Linked DNA regions of Homo sapiens. The protein of the gene in region 6 interacts with the protein of the main gene of each other region in a pairwise test. Each region holds a gene or a part of one and is shown on either strand. Other genes may lie near its edges.

What was found.
Region 1: the proteins of BANP (region 6) and ZNF488 interact in binary tests that used the Homo sapiens proteins (3 or more experiments, as listed by UniProt).
Region 2: the proteins of BANP (region 6) and COL10A1 interact in binary tests that used the Homo sapiens proteins (3 or more experiments, as listed by UniProt).
Region 3: the proteins of BANP (region 6) and FARS2 interact in binary tests that used the Homo sapiens proteins (3 or more experiments, as listed by UniProt).
Region 4: the proteins of BANP (region 6) and SETDB1 interact in binary tests that used the Homo sapiens proteins (3 or more experiments, as listed by UniProt).
Region 5: the proteins of BANP (region 6) and LHX8 interact in binary tests that used the Homo sapiens proteins (3 or more experiments, as listed by UniProt).
Region 7: the proteins of BANP (region 6) and PRKAB2 interact in binary tests that used the Homo sapiens proteins (3 or more experiments, as listed by UniProt).

What each region holds. Positions count from the first base shown.
Region 1 is NC_000010.11:47,367,294-47,370,793, reverse strand, and holds part of ZNF488 (zinc finger protein 488), read left to right. Parts: intron 1-1,856; 5' UTR 1,857-1,964; coding exon 1,965-2,987; 3' UTR 2,988-3,500. UniProt on the Homo sapiens protein: Transcriptional repressor. Plays a role in oligodendrocyte differentiation, together with OLIG2. Mediates Notch signaling-activated formation of oligodendrocyte precursors.
Region 2 is NC_000006.12:116,118,409-116,120,770, forward strand, and holds the end of COL10A1 (collagen alpha-1(X) chain precursor), read right to left. Parts: coding exon 1,665-2,362; 3' UTR 501-1,664; downstream 1-500.
Region 3 is NC_000006.12:5,264,513-5,268,012, forward strand, and holds part of FARS2 (phenylalanine--tRNA ligase, mitochondrial), read left to right. Parts: intron 1-477; exon of another isoform or gene 478-566; intron 567-2,929; exon of another isoform or gene 2,930-3,011; intron 3,012-3,500. UniProt on the Homo sapiens protein: Is responsible for the charging of tRNA(Phe) with phenylalanine in mitochondrial translation.
Region 4 is NC_000001.11:150,932,863-150,936,362, reverse strand, and holds part of SETDB1 (histone-lysine N-methyltransferase SETDB1), read right to left. Parts: intron 1-3,500. UniProt on the Homo sapiens protein: Histone methyltransferase that specifically trimethylates 'Lys-9' of histone H3. H3 'Lys-9' trimethylation represents a specific tag for epigenetic transcriptional repression by recruiting HP1 (CBX1, CBX3 and/or CBX5) proteins to methylated histones.
Region 5 is NC_000001.11:75,133,172-75,137,187, reverse strand, and holds the start of LHX8 (LIM/homeobox protein Lhx8), read right to left. Parts: upstream 2,801-4,016; 5' UTR 2,234-2,800; intron 806-2,233; exon of another isoform or gene 586-805; coding exon of another isoform or gene 574-585; coding exon 499-573; intron 89-498; coding exon 1-88. UniProt on the Homo sapiens protein: Transcription factor involved in differentiation of certain neurons and mesenchymal cells.
Region 6 is NC_000016.10:87,957,934-87,961,433, forward strand, and holds part of BANP (protein BANP), read left to right. Parts: intron 1-1,937; exon of another isoform or gene 1,938-2,060; intron 2,061-3,500. UniProt on the Homo sapiens protein: Controls V(D)J recombination during T-cell development by repressing T-cell receptor (TCR) beta enhancer function. Binds to scaffold/matrix attachment region beta (S/MARbeta), an ATC-rich DNA sequence located upstream of the TCR beta enhancer.
Region 7 is NC_000001.11:147,162,471-147,165,970, reverse strand, and holds part of PRKAB2 (5'-AMP-activated protein kinase subunit beta-2), read left to right. Parts: intron 1-3,397; coding exon 3,398-3,500. UniProt on the Homo sapiens protein: Non-catalytic subunit of AMP-activated protein kinase (AMPK), an energy sensor protein kinase that plays a key role in regulating cellular energy metabolism.

The DNA.
Region 1 (3,500 bases), on a different chromosome or scaffold from region 6:
CAAATCTATAATCTTTTTGTCCTTTTGCCTCCTCAGCATTCGTTCATAAGCATAGCGAGCATCACTGTCCGAGGCTGCACAGTGCTTCGTCTTGCGTATGCATCCTGCTTTGTTCACCATGTCTCTGGAGTTACGCATTTACTTGCTTGTTGCTTTCACCACTATAAACCATGCCTCATTTCCCTCTCCTGTTAGGCAGATCTGACCCTTCAGCCTGCCTCTTCCAGCCATGGTCAGACTGTTGTTAGTCCAGCGCCTGAGGGAGAGTACTTTCAGAGTTCCAGGCCCTTGTGTGACCTCCACCCTTAAGGTGACTCTTGGCACCCACAGGCCAATCAGCTGTATTCTTAGAGAGCTCTCAGAATACAGGCTGGTGGGCTATTTCCCTAAGGAAAAGCTGGGTGGGTTCTCACTGGGGTTGGAACCAAGGGGAGATGAGGAAATGGGAATAGGTTGGACGCCCTTGGTGGAGCTTCATAGTTTGATTTTACATCAGAGTTGGAAAGCAAAGCATACCCTTCTGCTACAGCTAGTGGTTTCCCCACCTGCGCCTGAGCTATGGACTGGGCAGGGGCCAAGTGCCCAGCAAGGAGCACAGGGAAGGAGCAGGAGGTGGAGAAGCTCAGAGGCAGGCTGCAGTAGGCTCCTCGCCCTTCTCACCATGCGGATGTCTCCTCCCTTGGCCCTATGGGAATATGGAGGGCTCACATTCTCCTCTCTGTGCAGGAGCAGGTCTCCACACTCTTTGGGAGGAGGAAGTTGACTTCTTTCTAACAGTTGCTGTCCTGTCATTCATTCATTCATTCATTCATTCAGCAAAGGCTTCCTGAGCTCCTGTCCTGTTGCAGGCTTGATTAAGTACTACAGATGTGAAGGTGAATTGACATATTTGGGTTCTTAGAGTTTGCCTTCTAGCAGACCACAAACAAGTAAATATAATGTTGCACGTGGTGCATGCAGGCCTTTGGTGCCCAGGACAGTGAGGGCATGGAGGAGGGAGTGTTGTCTGTGTCTGAGAGCACTGGGCAAGCCTCAAGGGGAGACTGTGCCTGAGGTGCATTTTGGAATGAGTTCACAGGTACGATGGGAATGAAGCTGCCCACATGTACTTGGGAGTTGGGGGAAGAGTGGGGACACTTGACTCTCACAAGAAGCATGGCTCTGAGAAAATCAGAGACCGCGCAGAAGCTGACAGGGCATGTGATGTGGACAAAGGGGCCACCAGGCTGGGAGGCAGGTCTGGTAGACCGAGGAGCAATGGGTTGAAATTAGGGTCGGGACAGAGAGGGCTGCATGAGGAGCAAAGACCATGAAGTCCATGGTCCTCCAACACTGCGACCCTCATGCTGCGGCCTCCCTGTGCCCTCAGCACTCAGCCAGGGCCAGAGGTAGCTCGAGCATGGAGCAGGGGCTGAGGGTGCATGGCTTCCTCATGATGGAGTCTACTTGTTGACAGATGACCCAGAAACTTCTGAAGGGCCCCCAAGGCCCTAATGCAGCCCCCAGAGCAGGCTCTTTCCCTTCCCCTGCAGACTCTCCATTTCATGCCTGGTTAATCCCCAGGAACCACTTTTGACAGGGGAATCCTACGTTTCTCTCTACTGAGCTGTAGAGGCTGCTGCCCATGGGCATTTTCAGCAGAGACCTCAGTCCCTACTCTGCCTCAGGGAGGTGGGCCCTGGAGGATGGTGCCATCCATGCTCCTTGTCTCCTGAGAGGTGGTGCAGTCAGCACACCCATCCCACAGACAGCGGAGGAGGCCTGAGCATCAGGGTCCTGTCTGATGCCAGCTCATGATGCACTGTGCCTGAGTGATGAATGCCCATCTCACTGCCTGTCGCTTCCTCTCTCTGCAGGGCCCTGTGGCCGAGTGTGTCCAGCCCAGTGTCATGGGGAGCTTCCATATCTCATGGCTCCTTGCTGGGCCAAGCCCTCCAGAACCCCAAACCCCCAAAGACTGATGAATGCCAGAGTGGCCACCTTGCTTATCTGTGGCCCCGGCCCTGGTGATCACCATGGCAGCTGGGAAGGGAGCCCCGTTGAGCCCATCGGCTGAAAACAGATGGCGACTTAGCGAACCTGAGCTGGGCCGGGGCTGCAAGCCAGTGCTGCTCGAGAAGACGAACCGCCTGGGCCCTGAGGCTGCTGTGGGCAGGGCGGGCCGGGATGTGGGCAGTGCGGAGCTGGCACTGTTGGTAGCCCCAGGCAAGCCCCGACCTGGCAAGCCGCTGCCCCCGAAGACACGTGGAGAGCAGAGGCAGAGCGCCTTCACGGAGCTGCCGAGGATGAAGGACCGGCAGGTGGATGCTCAGGCCCAGGAGAGGGAGCACGATGACCCCACAGGCCAACCTGGTGCCCCACAGCTGACCCAGAACATCCCCAGAGGCCCAGCTGGCAGCAAAGTCTTCTCTGTGTGGCCCAGCGGAGCACGAAGTGAGCAAAGAAGCGCCTTTAGCAAACCAACCAAGCGACCAGCAGAGAGGCCTGAGCTAACCTCAGTCTTCCCTGCAGGGGAATCTGCAGATGCCCTGGGGGAGCTGTCTGGACTCCTCAACACTACAGACCTCGCTTGTTGGGGTCGACTTTCAACTCCCAAGCTTTTGGTTGGTGATTTGTGGAACTTGCAAGCATTGCCACAGAATGCTCCACTCTGTAGCACTTTTCTGGGTGCCCCTACACTGTGGCTGGAGCATACCCAGGCCCAGGTGCCCCCACCCTCATCATCCTCCACCACTTCGTGGGCCCTCCTGCCACCCACCCTCACCTCCCTGGGCTTGTCCACCCAGAACTGGTGTGCAAAGTGCAACCTGTCCTTTCGCCTAACGTCCGACCTGGTCTTTCACATGCGATCCCACCACAAAAAGGAGCATGCGGGGCCTGACCCACATTCTCAGAAGCGGAGAGAAGAGGCCCTTGCCTGCCCTGTGTGCCAGGAGCACTTCCGGGAGCGCCACCACCTCTCCCGGCACATGACTTCTCACAGCTAGCAGGTGACCGCAGAATGACCTGCTGGGTGCAGCAGCCAGCCTTTGGCAGAGGGGGGCTCCCTGGGCCTGCGTTGAGGGGGCTGTCATGGTCCTTTGCAGAGCTGCTGCTTTTGGCATTCATAGATAAACAGCTCAGGCATAATTTGAAAAAGCCACACCTGCATGATGTGTTTTGAAGGAAATGAAGTCCTGAAATAAAGTGATGGGCTTTGCAAATCCAGGGTAGAGGCCCTAACAGGCACAGAGAGCAGGGGCAACTCCTGGCACACATCATGGGCTTTGGAGGCACACAAGCCTGGATTCGAATCTGGGCTCTTTCACATACTAGCTGTGACCCTGGACAAAGAGCTTTAACCTGCTGAGTCCCCATTTTCTCATCTGTGAAATGGAGATGATAACACTGTGTCTTAGGTTGGCATTCAGGTCACATGAAAGGTGTGTGGAAAGTGGCCAGCATTCTGCCTGCAGACCCTGAGCACTGAGTCAACAAGGTTTGTGATGATGTCTGTACTA
Region 2 (2,362 bases), on a different chromosome or scaffold from region 6:
CCAATCACAGCTTTGCTTGGATTACACAAGATTGCTTCTAAGGAATAAATAGATGCCTTTATAGTATGTTACCTCAGTGACTTGAGCCACATTGTCCTGATTAAACTAATAGGATGATGGATTCTTAAGAGTAGTATTTTTCAGCTTGGAAAAAATGTTGCCTTGTGATTGACAAAAAAATTGCTTGCCTTTTTAAAATGTAATTCAAGCCATCAAAACAATTTTAAATATTATAACCAAAAACATGTCAAGACAATAAATAGTAACTGCAGAATATTTGTTCAAACTGCATATTTCTCTGTCACCTGCTTCTTTCCCTCCCAGGAGAAAATTACAACTTTGGGGTGATTTTGTCATTTTTCTATCCCTAGTCATCAGCCCTTGACCCTGACTCAGATTGCATGTGGTTTTGTGGGTACCTCTTCACAGTCAACAATGAGTGGTTGGGTCTGTGGGAATAAAGATGCATCACCAATATAGGGACATATCCATGACAACTGTAAAAGCCACCCATCACTTTATTGTCCTACTTTTTTATTAACTTTGAACAATGAAAAGCCTTGAAAGAATGGTTGAGAACAGCAAATTGCTGCTTTCAAATTAATTCAGCCTAAAAATCTATTGATGTTATTTTATTGCGTCGTAAATAAGGAGTAGGTAAAACATTTTGTGCTTTAATAAGTGAGGCACAGCTTAAAAGTTTTAAACAGCAATATAAAAATACAGTACAGTGCATAAATAAATAATATATCTCCACTTCTAGTCGAATTTTGAAACCCTCAGTGTAAATTATAACTTCACTTGAATGGGAGGCACAAGGTACATGTGCTAATGTTCTGTAAATCCAGAAAATCATATCACATAAGATTCAATAAGGAATTAAAGAAATCAAATTAATCACACTTGTGTTAACTAAATAAGAATAGGTCAGATACCTGTTTCCAAGTTATGCTGGGTATATAAAAAGCTTCTCTGCAATCATAGAAAAGTTTGAAAAGGTTCATTGATGAAAGCACCTTGCATTTCAGATGAACTTCAATATTTTGGGGCTTTTTTATATAAGAGCTTTAACAAGTATATATGCACCTGTATATTTGAATAGATATTGATGAAAGGGGCCATACAGGCCTCAGAGTAGTGCACCATCAGAAATATTTTAGGGGATACAGTGTCTTTTAAATTTGAATATTCAAGTATTTAAGTTCTACAAAGTTATATGATACCTCCTGGATGTTTCCTAGAAGTTCTCATATTCATAGTTAGAAACAGGCTTTTTTAAAAAGGAAATGCCGAGTTTCTCAAATCAAATTTCACATAACTTAGAGCTCTATTTCTGTTTTTTTTTTTAATTTTTTTTTTGTTGTTTGTTTTTTGTTGTTTGTTTTTAACATAGCAGGACTTCTTTGGTGATATTTTTTAATATTGGAGAAAACCTTAAAGAGCCTTAAGATTGCTAACTAGAAATTCAAGAGAGGCTTCACATACGTTTTTACGTTGCTGCTCACTTTTCAGGGGGAAGGTTTGTTGGTCTGATAGCTCAAATCTGTATTTCAGAAAATAAAAATTACATTCTTTTCAGCCTACCTCCATATGCATTTTGTAGGGTGGGGTAGAGTTAGAGAATGCTTTTTCTAGCACAAGATTTAGATTAGCTCTGTGTGTACTCACATTGGAGCCACTAGGAATCCTGAGAAAGAGGAGTGGACATACTCAGAGGAGTATAGGCCATTTGACTCGGCATTGGGAAGCTGGAGCCACACCTGGTCATTTTCTGTGAGATCGATGATGGCACTCCCTGAAGCCTGATCCAGGTAGCCTTTGGTGTATTCATCATAGGTGTACATTACAGGGGTGCCATTCTTATACAGGCCTACCCAAACATGAGTCCCTTTCACATGCACGTGGTATGAAAAATAGTATATTCCTGGTATCTGACAAGTAAAGATTCCAGTCCTTGGGTCATAATGCTGTTGCCTGTTATACAAAATTTTATCAAATGGTATGGGAGTTCCTATTGCTGGGTAAGCTTTGGAGAGAATAACAGTAAAAGCAGACACAGGCATTCCTGTTACCCCCTGGTTGGCACTAACAAGAGGGGTCCCAGAAAGACTGGGCCTTTGGCCTGCCTTTATAAAACCCTCAGGCATGACTGCTTGACCTGGTGGGCCTGGAGGCCCAGGGGGCCCTGGAAGACCAGGCTCTCCAGAGTGGCCTCTTGGACCTGGAGGCCCTGGTGGCCCGGTGGGTCCATTGAGGCCCTTAGTTGCTATGCCAGCTGGGCCAGGAGGACCGGGACTTCCTGGATCCCCTTTAGACCCAGGGAATCCTGGAATGCCTGGTGGCCCAATAGGGCCTCTAGTAC
Region 3 (3,500 bases), on a different chromosome or scaffold from region 6:
GACAGAGTTTCACTCTTGTTTCTCAGGCTGGAGTGCAATGGTGCAATCTCGTCCGGCTAATTTTTTGTATTTTTAGTAGAGATGGAGTTTCACCATGTTGTCCAGGCTTTTCTTGAACTCCTGACCTCAGGTGATCCAGCTGCCTTGGCCTCCCAAAGTGTGGGGATTACAGGCGTGAGCCACCGCGCCCGGCCCATAAGTACCATATATTATATAAGATGATATAGTCACAGTGATGAGAGCTTCCCCACCCCTAAGAAACTTGTAGGTGACTAGATAAGCGAAACAATAATTTATTTTATAGAGACAGGGTCTCTGTTTACTAAGCTGGAGTGCAGTAGTGCTATCATATCTCGTTGTAACTTCAAACTCCCGTGCTGAAGTGATTTTCCTGCCTCAGCCTCCTGAGTAGCTAGGCCTATAGGCTCATGCCACCATGCCTGGCAGATTTTTAAGTGTTTTTTTTTTTTTTTGTAGAGATGAGATTTCACTATGATGTCCAGGGTGGTCTCAAACTCCTCAGTGCCTCTCCTGTCTTGGCTTCCCAAAGAGCTCAGATTATAGCTGTGAGTCGTGGCACTTGGCCAATAATTTCTTTTTGACAGTTGCTGCGATATGAGTAATATTAGTAAACGCTAAAGGAATAGGGAAGAGGAATATTGAACCAGGAGTTTCACCTATGGGAAGGCTTTCCATCGTAGAAGGTGTTTCCAGAATGAGAAGTAAAAGCCAGATGAGGAATGTGGTTAAAGATTGCAGTGTATATCCAAGCATGGAGGAAGAAGGGTGCTTGATCTATTTAGAGAACTCTTAAGTGTTTTAGAATGGTAGGAGGTGGGAAGGGAGGGACCACTGAAGTGTTTAGCCCTGTACTAGCTTTATTTTAGTGATGTTTTCTCTCTGTCTGGAATAAATCATTTCTTCCCTTATGCATTGGCTGAGTTATATAAGTAGAACTTAACAGCTGAGCTGTTGAAATGGAGATTATTTATTCAGGTACTGATAACCTTTTGTTTCAAATCATGACTTTGAATCCTATATTCCAGAGGCACTGAAATGTTATTTATTTACCTGTGCATTCAAGAGATAGCTGGCAGCCTAGCAATTTAAGTTACTGTTGTTGTGGTAACTTGAGGGCGATATATAAATCAAACACTGATCCTGTTTTCCAGAAGTTTATACTTTAAATGCATTTGTATATGATTAAAATAAGGTATTAGGTTGGTGAAAGTAGCTGCAGTTTTGACCGTTACTTTTAAGGGTGAAAACAGCAATAACTTTTCTACCATCCTGTACAAAGGGCTGCTGAAGCGTTGTGGGGTCTCAGTGCAAGGAGAGGTCACTTCATCCCTGATGCTTGGGCCACACCTCAGACCAACAGCAGTGCTAAGGCCCAGGCTTCAGATAATTTTGTTTAATTTTTTTTTAAAATTCTCTCCATGATTGGGTAGAGCCAGGGCTGAGAAACATTGACCTGAAGGAATTAGGGGGCTTCATGGAGGAGGTAGTGTTTGTGTTGGGCTTGAGAGGATTTAAGTTTCTCCTGGGCCTTGAAAGGAATTGAAGGATTTAAATGTTTGAATGTGGTGGTAAGATGGCTACTGTAGGTGGAAGATGACTCACCCTTTACCTTGAAAGGATGAAGGAGAAACCCTGATTGAGGTCTAAGAAAAAACAATCATGACCTGCGGAAGGCTTTGGCCAGAGCTGTAGAGTGCATGAGGGTGAGAACGGGGAGATCCCGTGAAAAGGTAATACATCGGCTTTCATATGTTTTAGGCATGAGATGAGCTGAATCCTGATATGATTTGAGTTAGTCTTCCCATGACCTGATGGAAGAGCTGTTATCTCCATTTAAGAAAAGTGAAGCTGCCCAGGTGTGGTGGCTCACATCTGTAATCCCAGCACTGTGGGAGGCTGAGGCAGGAGGATCACTTGAGCTTGGGAGTTTGAGGCCAGCCTGGGTAACATAGCGAGACCCCATCTCAATAAAATAGAATAAAAAAAAGAAAAAAAAATGAAGCTGAGAGTTTATTTAGCCAGGGTCACACAGCTGGAAAGTAGCTAGTGTGGACCTTGGCCTGAGATGTGATCTGTCTAGCTATGATACAACACTGCTTCACAGATAAAGTACCAGCTTCAGGAATTGGAAGGTTATTGATTTTTCTTGGATAACATGGGTACATTTCAGTCATATTTGAATTTTAATTTAGTTGGATTCTCACTTATTTGTAAAGCTAACCGGTTTGTATTGGAAATATTATAAATATTCTGGGAATCTCAAATGTTGATTTTATACTAGCTTTTTAGTTATTTAAGATAAATTTACATTTTATTCTATTAACATCTCTTTGAAAAGACGTAGTGCTTTTTTAGGTTGTCTATTTATGTGTGTATGTGAGACATTTCCTCTTGGGGGATTCTCTGAGACTCACATTTCTGTAGAAGCTTTTTTCAGATATACTTATGAAAATCTGTTCTCTGTTTTGAGAAATCTTGAAAGCTATGATATGTTGCAACTAGACACTCTAGCTTCATTGATTGGAGGCTAAGGGTTCCCGTATTTGTGGGCAGTAACAACAAAATTGACAATTTATTTTGTGTAAAGTATTTCAAATGTCAGTTATTTCTAGAGGTTTTTTTTCTTAAAAAAAAAAAACTCATTAATTCTTTTCATTGTAAAGGAAAGAAACCATCTTTTCATGCTACAAACCCCGACCACCATGAGAATTCTTTTACAGTGTGATTTGTTGTAATCTGTTATAGATCACTTTCATTCTTTCTTTCTTGCTGCATATGAGGGACCAGTATTTTAGGAATAATGTTTTCATATTGTCTGGATATTTTAGGATGATTTGTTAATCAAACTAGCTACAGCTTATTGTAATGATAGCTATTATTTATTTAGAGTTTGTTTTCTCTCTTCTAGGAGCTTTGCCATGAAAAGAACAGTCCAGGCCAGGCGTGGTGGCTCACACCTGTAATCCCAGCACTTTGGGAGGCCCAGGCAGGTGAATCACGAGGTCAGGAGATGGAGACCATCCTGGCTAACACAGTGAAAACCCGTCTCTACTAAAAAAATACAAAAAAAATTAGCCGGATGTGGTGGTGGGTGCCTGTAGTCCCAGCTACTCGAGAGGCTGAGGCAGGAGAATGGCATGAAGTTGGGAGGTGGAGCTTGTAGTGAGCTGAGATCGCACCACTGCACTCCAGCTTGGGAGACACAGCGAGACTGTCTCAAAAAAAAAAAAAAAAAAATCGCCACACTGTCTTCCACAATGGTTGAACTAGTTTACACTCCCACCAACAGTGTAAAAGTATTCCTGTTTCTCCACATCCTCTCCAGCACCTTTTGTTTCCTGACTTTTTAATGATCGCCATTCTAACTGGTGTGAGATGGTATCTCATTGTGGTTTTGATTTGCATTTCTCTGATGGCCAGTGATGATGAGCATTTTTTCATGTGTTTTTTGGCTGCATAAATGTCTTCTTTTGAGAAGT
Region 4 (3,500 bases), on a different chromosome or scaffold from region 6:
AAAATAGAAATAAAAAAGTCAATACTTGGAAGCCAAGCTAAAAAATTAAAAGTTAAAATAAAAAAACTGAACAGAGGCCTACAGGGTGGCTCACGCCTGTAATCCCAGCACTTTGGGAGGCCGAGACGGGCAGATTACGAGGTCAGGAGATCGAGACCATCCTGGCTAACATGGTGAAACCCTGTCTCTACTAAAAAAATAGAAAAAAATTAGCCAGGCATGGTGGCGGGCACCTGTAGTCCCAGCTACTCGGGAGGCTGAGGCAGGAGAATGGTGTGAAACCGGGAAGTGGAGCTTGCAGTGAGCCGAGATTGCGCCATTGCACTCCAGCCTGGGCGACAGAGCGAGACTCCGTCTCAAAAAAAAGAAAAGAATAACTAGGATATGGAACTCTCAGGAAAATAAATTAAAACTCAGAGTTGCTAGATTATCTAAAAGTCAATATTCAACAAAAAGATAAGAGACATGCAAAGAAACATGAAAGTGTGACCTACACTCAAGACAAAAAACCCTGTCAATAAAACTGACTCTCAGTGATCCCAGATACTGGATTTATAAATATGCTCAAAGAACGATAGGAAATTAAGTTAAAAGGTTAAATGAAAATATACTAATACTTAATCAACAAGAGAATCTCAAGAGAAACTGAAACTATGAAATAAGGAACCAAATAGAAATTCCAGAGTTGAAAATGCAAAAACTGAAATGAAATACATATTAGAGGGGCTAAGTGGCAGAGTCACAACAGGAGTCAATGAACTAGAATATATAGATACCCATATAGAGAAATTATCCAATCCAAAGCACAGAGAGAAAATTGAAGAAAAATGAACAAAGCTTCAGAGACTTGTGAAAAGATGAATGTCAAGCATTCCACCATATATGTAATGGAAATCCCAGAAAGCAGGGAGAGACAAAAGGGAACAGAAAAAAAAAACCATGAAGAAATAACAGATGAAATACTTCCAAATTTGGTGAAAAACTTGAATCTACATACCCAAGAAGTTAAATGGACCTCAAGTAGGATTAAGAAAGAACTTGGATACATCCCAGTCAAACTAACACCAGAAGACAAAAAGAAAACCTTAAAACCAGCAAGACAAAACTGACTCATATACATGATACAAAAATAATTTCCTCTGACTTTCCATCAAAAATAATAGAGGCCAGAGGGCACAGGGATGGCGTATTTGAAGTACTGAAAGAAAACTCTGTCAATCAAGAATTCTATATCCCAGGTAGGGCCGGGCACAGTGGCTCACGCCTGTAATCCCAGTACTTTGGGAGGCCAAGGCGTGTGGATCACCTGAGGCCAGGAGTTTGAGACCAGCCTGAACTACATGACGAAACCCTGTCTCTACTAAAAAGACAAAATTAGCCGGGCGTGGTGGTGCACACCTGTAGTCCCAACTACTTGGGAGGCTGAGGCAGGAGAATTGCTTGAACCTGGAAGGTGGAGGATGCAGTGAGCTGAGATCTCACCACTGCACTCCAGCCTGGGCAACAAGAATAAAGCTCTGTCACAAAAAAAAAAAAAAATTCTATATCCTGGGTAAACGAAGATTGAGGGAATCCACTGTCAGCAGAACTGTACTGCAAGAAATATTAAAGGAAACCGTCTGGCTGGAAAAACATGACACTGGATGATAACTCAGATCCACAGGAAGGAATGAAGAGCAACAGAAGTGATAAATATCTGGGTAAATACATATTTTTCTTTTCTTCCCTTACCTTCTTTAAACATGAGACTGCTTAAAGCAGTAATTATAACACTAGATTATTGGCTTTAAACATGTAGCTATAATATATTTGACAATAGTATCACACAGGAAGAGAGTGAAAGTAGAAGTATGCTGGTGCAAAGTGGCTGTGTATATATATATATTTTTTGAGATGGAGTCTCGCTCTGTCGCCCAGGCTGGAGTGCAGCGGTGCGATCTTGGCTCACTGCAAGCTCCGCCTCCCAGGTTCACGCCATTCTCCTGCCTCAGCCTCCCAAGTAGCTGGGACTACAGGTGCCCGCCACTACGCCCAGCTAATTTTTTTGTATTTTTAGTAGAGACGGGGTTTCACCGTGTTAGCCGGGATGGTTTCGATCTCCTGACCTCGTGATCTGCCCGTCTCGGCCTCCCAAAGTGCTGGGATTACAGGCGTCAGCCACCGCGCCCAGCCAAAATGGCTGTATTTTTACCAGAATTAAGTCAGTATTAATTTGTAATAGATTATGATTAGGTACAGATGCAACCCCTTTTATGAAAGCTAAAAAAAAGAAAAATCAGGGGCCGGGTGTGGTGGCTCACTCCTGTAATCCTAGCACTTTGGGAAGCCGAAGCAGGTGGATCACCTGAGGTTGGGAGCTTGAGATCAATCTGACCAACATGGAGAAACCCTGTCTCTACTAAAAATACAAAATTAGCCAGGCATGGTGGTGCATGCCTGTAATCCCAGCTACTTAGGAGGCTGAGGCAGGAGAATCGCTTGAACCCAAGAGGCGGAGGTTGCAGTGAGCAGAGATCCTGCCATTGCACTCCAGCCTAGACAACAAGAGCGAAAACTCCATCTCAAAAAAAAAAAAAAAAAAAAGAAAAAGAAAAAGAAAAAGAAAAAGAAAAAGAAAAATCAGAAGAATGACAGTGGTTTTCTGAAATGTTTGTTTGACTTTAAGAAGGCAACAAAGAAGAAATAGGGCTAGGCACAGTGGCTCACGCCTGTAATTCTAGCACTTTGAGAGGCTTAGGTGGACAGATCACCTAAGGTCAGAAGTTTAAGACAAGACTGGCCAACACAGAGAAATCCTGTCTCTACTAAAAGTACAAAAATTAGCTGGGTGTGATGGCGCGTGCCTGTGGTCCCAGCTACTCAGGAAGCTGAGACAGGAGAATTGCTTGAACCCAGGAGGCAAAGGTTGCAGTGAGCAGAAGTTGCAGTGAGATCATGCCACTGCACTTCAGCCAGGGCAATGGAGCAAGACTGTCTCAAAAAAAAAAAAAAAAAGACAAAATAGGCCAGGCATGGTAGCTAAGGCCTATAATCCCAGCACCTTGGGAGGCCAAGGCAGGAGGATTGCCTGAGCTCAGGAGTTCGAGACCAGCCTGGGCAACATAGTGAGACCTTATCTCTACTACAAAAAAAAAAGTTAGCTGGGCGTGGCGGCATGTACTTTTAGTTCCAGCTACTCAGGAGGCTGACGTGGGAGGATCACTTGAGCCCAGGAGGTTGAGGCTGCAGTGAACTATGATCATGCTATCACACTCCAGCCTGGGGAACAGAGTGAGACCTTGTCAATCAATCAATTCATTCATTCATTCATTCATTCAAAAAGACTAAAATTATACAAAGTATATTCTCTGAACACAATAAAATTAATTAAAAATTAACAACAGAAAGATATCAAAAAAACCCCAAATATTTAGAAATCAAACAACCACAAGGAAAATTAAAAATGATGCCAAGTTTAATGAAGCTGAAAACACAACATAAAAAAAGTATGATATCCTGAG
Region 5 (4,016 bases), on a different chromosome or scaffold from region 6:
CCGAGGCCATGGACCGGGGCGAGGACGACGGGGACAGCGGGGCCGAGGAGGAGCACGAGTCCTCGTCCCCCGCTCCCTCGGGGCTCACCTGCAGGAAACCGCGAGGCGCAGGCGGTTCTAGACCCCTCCTCCCCTTCGCATCCCACCTACCCACAAGGGCGCCCCCACCGCCTCCCCTCCCTTCCCCCTGGCCACCCCACCCCACCCCCAGCTTCTTGAGGTCACGATTCTCGCCCTCTTCCCCGAGTCCAAGCTCTGGCTACGCACCCGCTGGGGCTGCCGACCCCTGACCTATTCGGACCCCAGAAGTCTTGCGGCCCTGCCCTCCTCGCGGGCCAGCTAAGCTTCCCACCCCACCCAGACCCTCTCCGCCCCGTCCTCTGTCTGCTGCAGGAGGGGCCAGCTGGGCCCTGGAAGGAGCGCGGGGACAGCGGCCCTTCGTCCTGCGCCGCCTCCCCACGGCCAGTCTTGCCAGCACGCGAGCCCCTCCGCACTCACCAGTCCCTCTTCCCCGGCGCCTTTGCGAGTCCTCCCGGCCGCCAGGGCTGTAGTCCGCCCGCACTCCTCTGACATGAGCCCCTGACACTGCGGAGTAGGAGGGGGAGAAAGTATGGAGAAACAGATCAGAAGTTCCGAGCGTGCTGCCCGCCCCAGCCTCGGCGCGGGGAGCGAGCTAATGAAGGCCCTCAGAGTGCGGGGCAGCGCGTGCAGCCGTCACGGCGCCTGAGCCCGGGCGCCGCGGGCGGGCTGGCGCGCAGCCTCCTTCGCTGGCCGCTGGCGGCCGCCACCCGAGCGCTGGTAGCTCGTCCCGCGCTCCCCGGGCTCCGGGTCTCCGGCGCTCACCCGGGCACGTCGGTTCCCCGCCCCCCCGCCGGGGATAACAAGTTAATAACAATCATCCCCTCACAAAGCTCTTTCTTTCCAGACGTCAATCATAGCGGAGCGGGGAACACCGGGCTAAAGGGGGTGCGGGGCAGTGGGAGGTGGAGTGCGAGAGAAGAAAAGAGGATTGAGGAGGGGGTGGGAGAAGAAACTAGATTTCTTTAATAACCTCAATTAAAAGAGCAAGACACATATATATTTTAAAAAGGGGGCTTTTTGAATAGGATAGCCCGAAAGGTGAAGAGGTTTAATAGGATACTTGAAAGCTAATTACAGCGGGATTTAAGAAGCCTGGTGTTTGTTCCGATGACAATTTGAATGAAAATGCTTCAGATTAAACCGAGCCAGCAGCTCTTTCGTAAACTTACAGCAATTAGAGTGGCGAGTGATTTACACTCGTTTCTTTAAGGTGTAAATTGCCACTTATTGCTCAGTAAGTCAACATTTGAGCTACTAAAGGATTATTTTTAACCAGCGCAAAAAGCGGGTAGAATAATGGAAAATATCCAGCTGAATTTAATTTGTGCCATTAAAAGAACTCACCCAACCTCTGACAAAATGTTTTAAAGAAACAACGCGCGTTACTCAAGTGTTTCCAAGTATTTGCTGGAGTTTTGTTCTTAAACGAAAACGCAGCGTCCCTGGGCTTAGACCGCTTTCGTTTCCAAAAACTCTAGCTCGGGGGCGGGTGGGTACCCCGAACTCGAGCGGCTCGCACTTCTGCATTTCTGACTGTTCGCCTCCCCTTCTCCCTCCCTCTGGAAGCACCAGGCAAGATACCAACCTGGGGGCCTCCCGGACCGTCGGCCGAGACCCTCCCTTTCTGGGGTGCGCTCCCTACGCGGGACCCAGCGTAGCTGCACTGAGGCCGCGTCCTCACACACAAAGGGCGTTTAAACAGAACAGCTCCGCTTTCGCCTGGTGTCCCCAACCGGCTTCGGAGCAAAGAAATAGTCAGGGGCGCCCCGCGCGCGTCCTGCTGAGGCCCTCAGACAGGCTGCAGATGATTTCAAACTTAAAACACCAAATACCCACAGGTCCTGCCTCCCGAGTGAGGTGAGAGCTTGTCAGCTTCCCCAGTCTACTCAGACAAACCGCGTGACTCGTTTTGTGCCCTGCGGTTTTCTTTTGGCATTTTAGGTAAAATGGCTCTCCCGGCAAGCCCAGGGATCCCGGAGGCCTTTCTGGAGCCCCGCAGAGGGAGGTGTGCCTCAGGGCAGGCAAGTGTCCGCGGGCAGCCGAACGAAACGAGCCAGGTCTCCGGTTCCACCCGACAGCCGCCCAGTCCTCCCGACCCACTCTCCCGGACCGCCACGATCACCACAGCAAATAGAACAAAAGCACGACTCACATGGACCTGAGAGCGCCTTAGGCTCGAGGCTTCATCTCCCAAATTACAGTCTCCATGTCTCAGGTTAAGTGAGCTTTTGGGGAGGGAGTGCAATGATTACTGACTAACGCTACTACGTAATAAAAAAAAAAAATTGCCAGGTCTGAAGATGAGGCCGTTACAGGTAGTTTCTGAACCTTGTTTAGGAGCCCAAACAACTCGAGTTTCAAGGACACTGCGATTCAGCTGGTCTGGCCAGGCGTCGGCTCGCTCACCTTCTCAGGGGGAACTGCCAGCTCCGGCACGTCCTTTGCTACTAGTTTACACACAAACATCTGATCGTTCTTCCAATACATGGCACTGCTAGGGCTGCTTATCACATACCAACTCCAGAGGGTCAGAGGCTGTCCGTGTCTGCCGATCTCCCCCCTCCCCCGCCCCGATCCACTAATAAAAGCTGATGCCGAGAAGGATAATGCTACAAGTGTGTCTTCGTCCAAAGAGGCCGCTGTGGCCTGACCACTTTCTGATGAACCGTTCTTAAAATTCCTTTCCCAGCTTCACTGAGCTCTGAGTGAAGTGAGCACTGAGCTTTTCCTGAGTCCCTCCAGGAAAAGAAAAAAAAAAAAGTTTTGTTTTCCAGAGGGTGGAACCTAATATAAAGGAAGGGGGCGTGTGGGGGAAAGTCTTTCCTGGAGAAATTGCTTCGCCTCTTTCAGGAAAACCCGCCTTCTCTACATGTTAAAATCTTTATCAGAACACGCCAACTGACTTCAGGTTTAGTACTAAAGAAAAAAAAATTGGGGGATGTCCTGTTAACTTGACTTTAAAAAATCTGCTGTCTGCATTTGCCATAACTTTTAAATTCTCGCTCCCCAACCCAAACCTAAACAAAGATTCAGGTTACATCTCTTTCTGCAGCAAGCAGAAGGGGAAGTGGAGGTCTGGGTGACTTGAAAGTTTTAGTCATTCTCTTGAAACTCGCAGCTGTCCGGTGTAGCCGAGGAATGCCACCGCTCCTGGCAGCCTGGGAGCTGACTTATCTAGCAGTTCGCGCTCCCTTTCCGAAAAGTTTTCTCATTAAGATAAAGAAGGAACATCTGAGCAACACAAAAGCTTATGATTTGCGACTAGATTTGAAATCAAGGCTACAAGAAAGACAAAAGTATGTTGCTAATGAGTATTGCTCTTTCATCTCCTAGACAAAATGTAAGCCCGAGCAGCCTTGTCTTCTGCCTCAAGTTCTGACTGCGGGGCGGGGAAGCGGCGGAGGGAGGTATTCAGGGTACCTTAATTTTGATTAAGATTGGAAGGTGTGTTTGTTTAAACAGACTCTTTGTGGTATAAACTTTATTTCATTATTTAGTGTATAAAGACAAATTTGGTTAAAAGATTATTTTTAAATGATTTTTGTTTCCATTTAAAAAGCTAAACTTCTGAAACTAAGAAGATCTAGGAGTCTATTTCTTAAAGGCCTTTAACAGAATCATAGGATTTTGCTTTAATTAGATGGAAATATATATGTAAAACACACACACGCACACACACATATCTTATCTCCTTGCCTTATTTGTATAGAAGAAAAAGAGCGAAATGATCTTGCCCAGACCCCAGCTCGGTCAGCAGCCGGCTAGCGGAGGAGATAGATAGCCTTTCCTGTGATGAAGTGAGCCTGTGTAAGAGTCTGGGACCGAGTTACCACTACAAATTTAGTTTTTCCTCCATTGCATTTTTCTCCCATAAACACTAGAGTCTTCAGAGCATTTTCCTATCGCCATTGTTTTTCTTTTCGCGCAGCTGCGCA
Region 6 (3,500 bases):
GGTGGGTCCCTGAGCAGAGTGCTGCCGCTGCCAGTCTGCGTTTTCTGCCGAAATGCGTCCCTGAGATTGAGAAAGTTCACACCCTAAGTGTTTTTAGAAGGCTGGGTGCCCTGTTTCCCAGCCAACAGTTGTGACTGTCAGTGGGCAAACACAGTTTGCAATAATTGGCCTGTTGTCTTACAATTTCTGGCTCTCCTCTTTGTGGTGTAGGTCATGTTAGGTGGTGGTCCTTGGTCGTTTGTGCCACGTTCCCTCATGTTCTTGAACTCTGAGTCCCTAGAAACTGACATTGGTCTTATTTTGAGTGCATTATTTTTCAAACTTTGGGTCTGAACCCACATCAATTGAGTGGGCCATGGCCAGTGTTAAGAATACTGGATAAAATGGAGCATGCCTTGGATAAAAGGAGCATGGTTCGGAGTGGCTAACGGGTAGGTATCGACTCAGGAAACTTGCAGTGATGAGTGTATGAACTTACCATCGTAGGCCCCAGTCGAGAGCGTGGAAACCACTCTTCTGTGATGTGTGTCTACTAGCGGGTGGTTATGCACAGCATTTGACTGAATTTGGGTAACTCTGGATGTAGTGTATAAAGTACTTTTTAAAAGGCCATCCACTGGGCCAGGCATGGTGGCCCAAAGCTCCCAGCGCTTTGGGAAGCGGAAACTGGAGGATCACTCGAGCCCGGGAATTGGAGGCTGCAGGGCTGCAGTGAGCCATGATTGCACCACTGCACTCCAGCCTGGGCGGCAGAGTGAGACCCTGTCTCAAGAAAAAACAAGCAAAAACTATTCCCGTTAAGCCGCTTGCTTAGGGGTGACTGTGATTGAACATGTGGCTTCTCATCCAAGTTGATTTTAATCTCTATGGAGATCAGACTAATAACCTCACAGTAGAAAATCCACCAGTGAGCTCAGCGGCACAAACTCACAGCCCAGCAGTGTTTGCAGAGGGGAAGGCCCAGAATGCGTGGAGGCTTCGGGATCCATCCTTTGCAGACATAGAGAATTCTCATGGGGGAGGGAGGACCTTGCGGCGCCTTGGCAGTGAGGGGAGCAACCTCAGCATGATGTTGGCACGTACACTGGGGACTGGGTGGTGACACCGTGCATGCCCACAGGGGTGGAGATCTTTGTGGAGTTCACTGATGGATCCCAGAGGCCCAGGACGGGATGGCACGCTTTTCTGTGAGGGTCAGAGTGTAAGTGTTTCTGGCCTTGTGGGGCGTGGGATGTCTCGTGCCACTGTGAAGCCGCTCGACTCTGCTGTTGGGCTGAGAAGCAGGCACCTTGTTTGTGGACGCTGACATTTGAGTTTTATGTAATTTTCTCATCATGAAATATTGTTCTTTTGTTATTTTTCTGTTTTAAAATGTAAAACCCATTCCTGGCTCACAGGCTGCATAGAAGCAGGTGGAGAGCTGGGCTGGGTTGTGGGCCCTCACGTGCCACCCCCTGACCTAGAGTGTGTTTGCCCTGGGAAGGAATAAGACGAGGTTGTGTAGAGAGGCAGTGGCTGGATGGGGAGAGGCCTGGGCCCTGCACAGAGGAGCTGAGGTGTGAGGCTGCTTGCGAGGGAGGCGGCTGACCAGGCTTGGTACTAGCAGGCTCTCCGGGGAGGAGGCCCCCTGGAGGAACAGCGCTGGCGTCAGCCACAGAAGGGCTTAGCGGCCATGGTCTTCCTGCTGCAGCCCGTGTGGTTTTGGGAGGGACACATGGAGCATTGGAGGACAAAGAGACGGCCAGATCGGAGTGTGTGTGGCAGAGGGGCGATGCCACCCTTCGGAGCGATGGGTGCCAGGGTACTCGGTGAGAGCCCAGGTCCCGGGTGAGGGGGTGGGCTGAGGGGGAGTCAGAGAGGGAGGAGCCTCGGGATGCGGAAGGGCGAGAGCAGGGCGATGAGGGTGGGGCCGCAGGGAGGTGGCCGGGACTCCTGGTAGTATTCTTGGGGAGAAAGATAACAGGGAAGTGAGGAGGGTTCAGCTGTGGAAGTGCTGGGATGGCTGATCCGAGTGACCATGGCCTAGACGGGGTTTAAACCCTGGACTGAAGAAAGTGCCGGTGAGAGGTCAAGGCAGGAGATGGAGACCTGGGGGTGACAGGTGTCCCCGGCACCTCCTACCCCCACCCTGGGAGACAGTCCCAAGGGGCACCTTCACTGGGGGCTGGCCCTCATGCACACCAGCCAAACCTCCTGCCCACCTTCTGGGGGCTTCTGGAGCAGAGCAGAGGCCCCGCGGACCGTGAGGATGGCCACAGGGAGGGGAGATGCGAAACACTGGCCGTGGCAGGTGCCCACGCAGTCAGGAGCTTGCTTGTGGGGCTCTTGTCTGACACCTGGGAGATGAATTTCAGTCTGATGGTGGATCTGGACCCAGATGGCTTGCTTGGGATTCAGCAGCTCTTGGGAAGAGCCACACTTGAGGATGGGCTTGGGTGAGGGTTTGGAACGTGCTTAAAGAGGTTGGCAGGCAAGGATTTGGTGGTAGCAGGTGGGGCACATCGTGTATTGGCAGGGTTTTGTTATTTTTATCCTAAAGACATACTTATTTGCAAACCTTCTATTTTGGAACATTTTGAGATGTATACATATGTGGCAGAGATAGCATAGGGAGTGCCCTTGTGCCTGGTACCCAGTTTCTCCCGTTGCTAACAAGACGCATGACAGCAGTTCATGGCACAGTGTTGGGTGTGCCCCGGCCAACTCAGCAGATGAGCTGTTTCACAAAATCAGTGATTCTGCTCTGATAAAATGGCAAGTCCACGGAAAGCACTTTCATTGTATTTTGAAGTTGGGTGGTTGTTGAGGGATTATTTGAGTTGTAGTTGAACTAGCTGCTCTTTTCATGGAACACTATAAAAAAATAATTTACAGATTACTGACATCTCTTACTAAATGAGTGAAGTTAGCCTCTCACCTCAAAGAAGTCAGCTAACAGTGTTTGTTGCCAGTGATAAAGTTTGAGCTGTCAAGTGAAGTTGGAGTTTTGGAAAGTTTGTCTTTGCCACCGTGAGCCCGAGAGCTCCCAATAAATCAGATGCCAGTGCTAATGCTGATGAACCGTATGCTTTTGATATTATAGACTGAACAACATTTGCAAGAGCTGCCTAACTCGGTGAAGCAACATTTTCCAGATGGTCGATGCGGGATCACGCCTGGGTAAAAGATCCATTTAGAGTACAAGTCAAGCCAATGGATCTTAAAGCCATAAAGTGCAGAAGCTCATGGATACAGTTCACATTCCATATTGCAAACAGCCTTTAAGGAAAAATAAAACACACTTGTTGCGTGTTGGTGTGGTGTCAAAGAGGAATCTCCATAATTATCTGAAGAGCCTATTAAGATACTTTTCCCTTGTCTAACTGCATCTCCTTGTAAGGCTGCATTTTATTTTATTTTTTCGTACTTTTTGTAGAGACAGGGTTTTGCTGTGTTGCCCGGGTTGGTCTCGAACTCCTGGACTCACAGAATCTGCACCCCCCCGGGCCTCCCAAAGTGCT
Region 7 (3,500 bases), on a different chromosome or scaffold from region 6:
TAAAAATTAGCCGAGCGTAATGGCACATGCCTGTGGTCCCAACAATTTGGGAGGCTGAGGCGTGAGGATTGCTTGAGCCCAGGAGGTCGAGGCTGCTGTGAAGCATGTTTGAGCCTCCTCACTCCAGCCTGGGCAGCAGAGTGAGATACTGCCTCAAAAACAAGACAACCACCCCCCTGCCCCCTGACAATTCTGTTGTAGGTAATTGAAATTTTGTAAATTTTTGGTTAAAAAAAAAAAAGTCTATGGTAGCGGAAAATATCTTTACACTTTTATTTCCTCTAATATTATTTGAGCCAAGGCCTTCATCTCTGCTTACAATTGCTATAGTATCAGAGAATATTTTGCTAACCACACTTGTAGTTACCATTTTGTTACTTTACAATAAGAACTATCTAAAGAATTGTGCACAGTATTCCCAGTGAGCACACTTCTCTCCTGTGAGTTCAAAGCCTGCCTCTGCTACTAACTAGTTTTGCCATCATGAACAAATCTCTCAACCTTTTTCGTTCTGAGTTTCTTCACAGTAAAACCAGGGACTTAAACTTTCAGTGATTCTCAGCTGAGGAGGCACAATACCTTAAGTGGAACATATTTGAATTTCAGGGGAGAAGGGTGGCTTTGCTGTTTTTAAAAGAAATTATTGGCTGGGCACACTGGCTCAGGCCTGTAATCCCAGCACTTTGGGAGACCGAGGCGGGTGGATGACGAGGTCAGGAGATCAAGACCATCCTGGCTAACACGGTGAAACCTCATCTCTACTAAAAAATACGAAAAATTAGCTGGGTGTGGTGGCAGGCGCCTGTAGTCCCAGCTACTCGGGAGGCTGAGGCAGGAGAATGACGTGAACCCGGGAGGCGGAGCTTGCAGTGAGCTGAGATCTCGCCACTGCACTCCAGCCTGGGCGACAGAGCGAGACTATTATTAATAGTGTAATCATCTGTTGAGGAAACTTTTGAAAATGTTGTTTTCATCATATAAGCTCAGAAGGTTAAATTGGGCATTATTTTTGACTGGTGGGACAGTAATTTAAAAGGGTTTTAAAATGCTGAATTAGATTATGAGGATACTTGTGACTAATTTTTGCATTATATAATTCTGGCAAAGTAACCAATAAATAGACATGTATCATAATTATATAGAGAGAAGACTTGCATACTTTTGATATTTCCCTTTCTCCTAATTTCCCAATCTATTGAGGTAACGCTTATAATCCATTTTTTACTAGGAATCTACAGATAATGGATTTTAGTCTGCACTCATTTACTGTCTATCCATGTATGTAACTTTAGGCAAATAACCAATTTGTATTTATTTTTTTCTGGTGAAAAGGCAATAAAAACTATTCTGTGCACTTCCCAAGGGTATTTTGTGGATCATGTGACGAAATAACAAAGCATAATACTTTGTAAGGTTTCAAGTTCCATATGTTTTAAAGATATTATTTAATATCAGAGTATTACTTCTGCTTTTTTCTTTTGCCTTATATGTATTTTTTATTTTTAATTGACACATAACAATTGTACATATTTATGAGATACAATGTGATGTTTCAATACATTTTATATGTGTAATGATCGAGTCAGGGCAATTAGCATATTCATCTCAAACATTTGTCGTTTCTTCGTGGTGATAACATTCAAAATCCTTTCTTCTAGCTATTTTATTTTGTTACATTATTGTTACCTATATTCACTCTACTGTGCAACGGAACACTGGAACTTAGTTCTTACAATGAATTTGGTGGCTCACACCTGTAATCCTAGCACTTTGGGAGGCCGAAGTGGGAGGATCACTTGAGTCCAGGAGTTTGAGACCAGCCTGGGCAACATAGTGAGACCCTGTCTCTACAAAAAAAATCAAAAAATTAGCTGGGCATGGTAGCATGTGCCTTTAGTACCAACTACTCTGAAGGCTGAGGTGGGAGGATCACTTGAGCCCAGGAGGTCAAGGCTGTAGTGAGCCGTGATCAAGCCACTGCACTCCAGACTCGGTGACACAGAGCAAGACCCTCTCTCAAAAAAGAAACAATAACATTTAAATAAAATATATTATAATATATTTCTCTTCATTTTTGTATATTGTATTCTTGTCTGCATACTTTTTTTCATTTTTTTGAGATGTAATTTATACATCATAAAATTAACTCTTAAATTGTACAACTCAGTAATTTTTAGTATATTCAGAGTTATGTGATTATCACAACTATCTAATTCCAGAGCATTTTTATCACCCGCAGAATAAACCCTGTACCCATTAGCAGTCACATCCCATTCCCTCCTCCCCTCCGTCCCTGGCAACCACAAGTCTTGCTGTCTTAAGGATTTGCCTGTTCTGGACATTTCATATCAGTGGAATCCTACAATATGTGGTCTTTTGTGACTGGCGTCTTTCACTTAGCATAATGTTTTCAGGGTTCATCCATGTTCTAACCATGTATCAGTACTTCGCTCTTTTTTATGGCTGAATAAGAGCCCATTGTGTGGACATACTGTTTGTTTATCCATTCAGTAGTTGATAGACATCTTGATTGTTTCCACTTTTTGGCTATTATAAATAATGCTATTATGAACACTGGTGTACAAGTTTTTGTGTAGACATATGTTTTCATTTCTTTTGGGTATATACCCAGTGTATAATGCTGGGTCATGTGGTAACTTTATGTTTAACTATTTGAGGAACTGCCAAACTGTTTTCCAAAGTGGCTGGACTACTTTACATTCCCTCTAGCAGTGGGAATAGTGTGAGCGTTCCAATTTCTCCATTCCTTTGTTGACACTTATTACTGTCTGTCTGTTTGATTTTAGCTGTCCTAGTGAGTATGAAATGGTAGCTTATTGTGGTTTTGATTTGCATTTCCCTAATGACAGTTACATACATTTTGTCCTTATTGTTGCAATCATTGTTGTATTGGTAGTCTTAGGAGTTTATAACCTTGTTGTTTGGCTGGAAAAAAGAAAAAATCTAATCTTTTCCCATTGTTTGAAAGTTACAAGGCATCTTTACATCCATTATCTAATTTGATTTCCTTAAAAACATCATGAAATAGGGCAAAGATTATTTTTATTTTATAAAGAAACTGACCATTGTGGAGGGATTCTTCCAAGGTCCTACAGCTGATACATGTAGTAGCTCTTCCCTGAGCCTGGGTCTTTGAGTCTTTATATCTTTGTCTGTCTCCCAAATCATGTTGCTATGTTGAGGAGCTTCATGGTTTATGTCCAGGGGACTCAGATTTTTCCTCTGGTTACCTTACAGCTGTAGATCCCACAGGTCACAAGTTTGTGATCCAGGACTTCTACCATATTTAATGTTAGCTGCCATGTATTGATAGCTTTTTCCATGCATTCTTGCTAATTCTCCAACTCTTTCTCATATTTGTATAAATATCTTTCAGACCTTTCCAGCTCACCCCCAGGGCCTTATGGTCAAGAAATGTATGCGTTTCGATCTGAGGAAAGATTCAAATCCCCACCCATCCTTCCTCCTCATCTACTTCA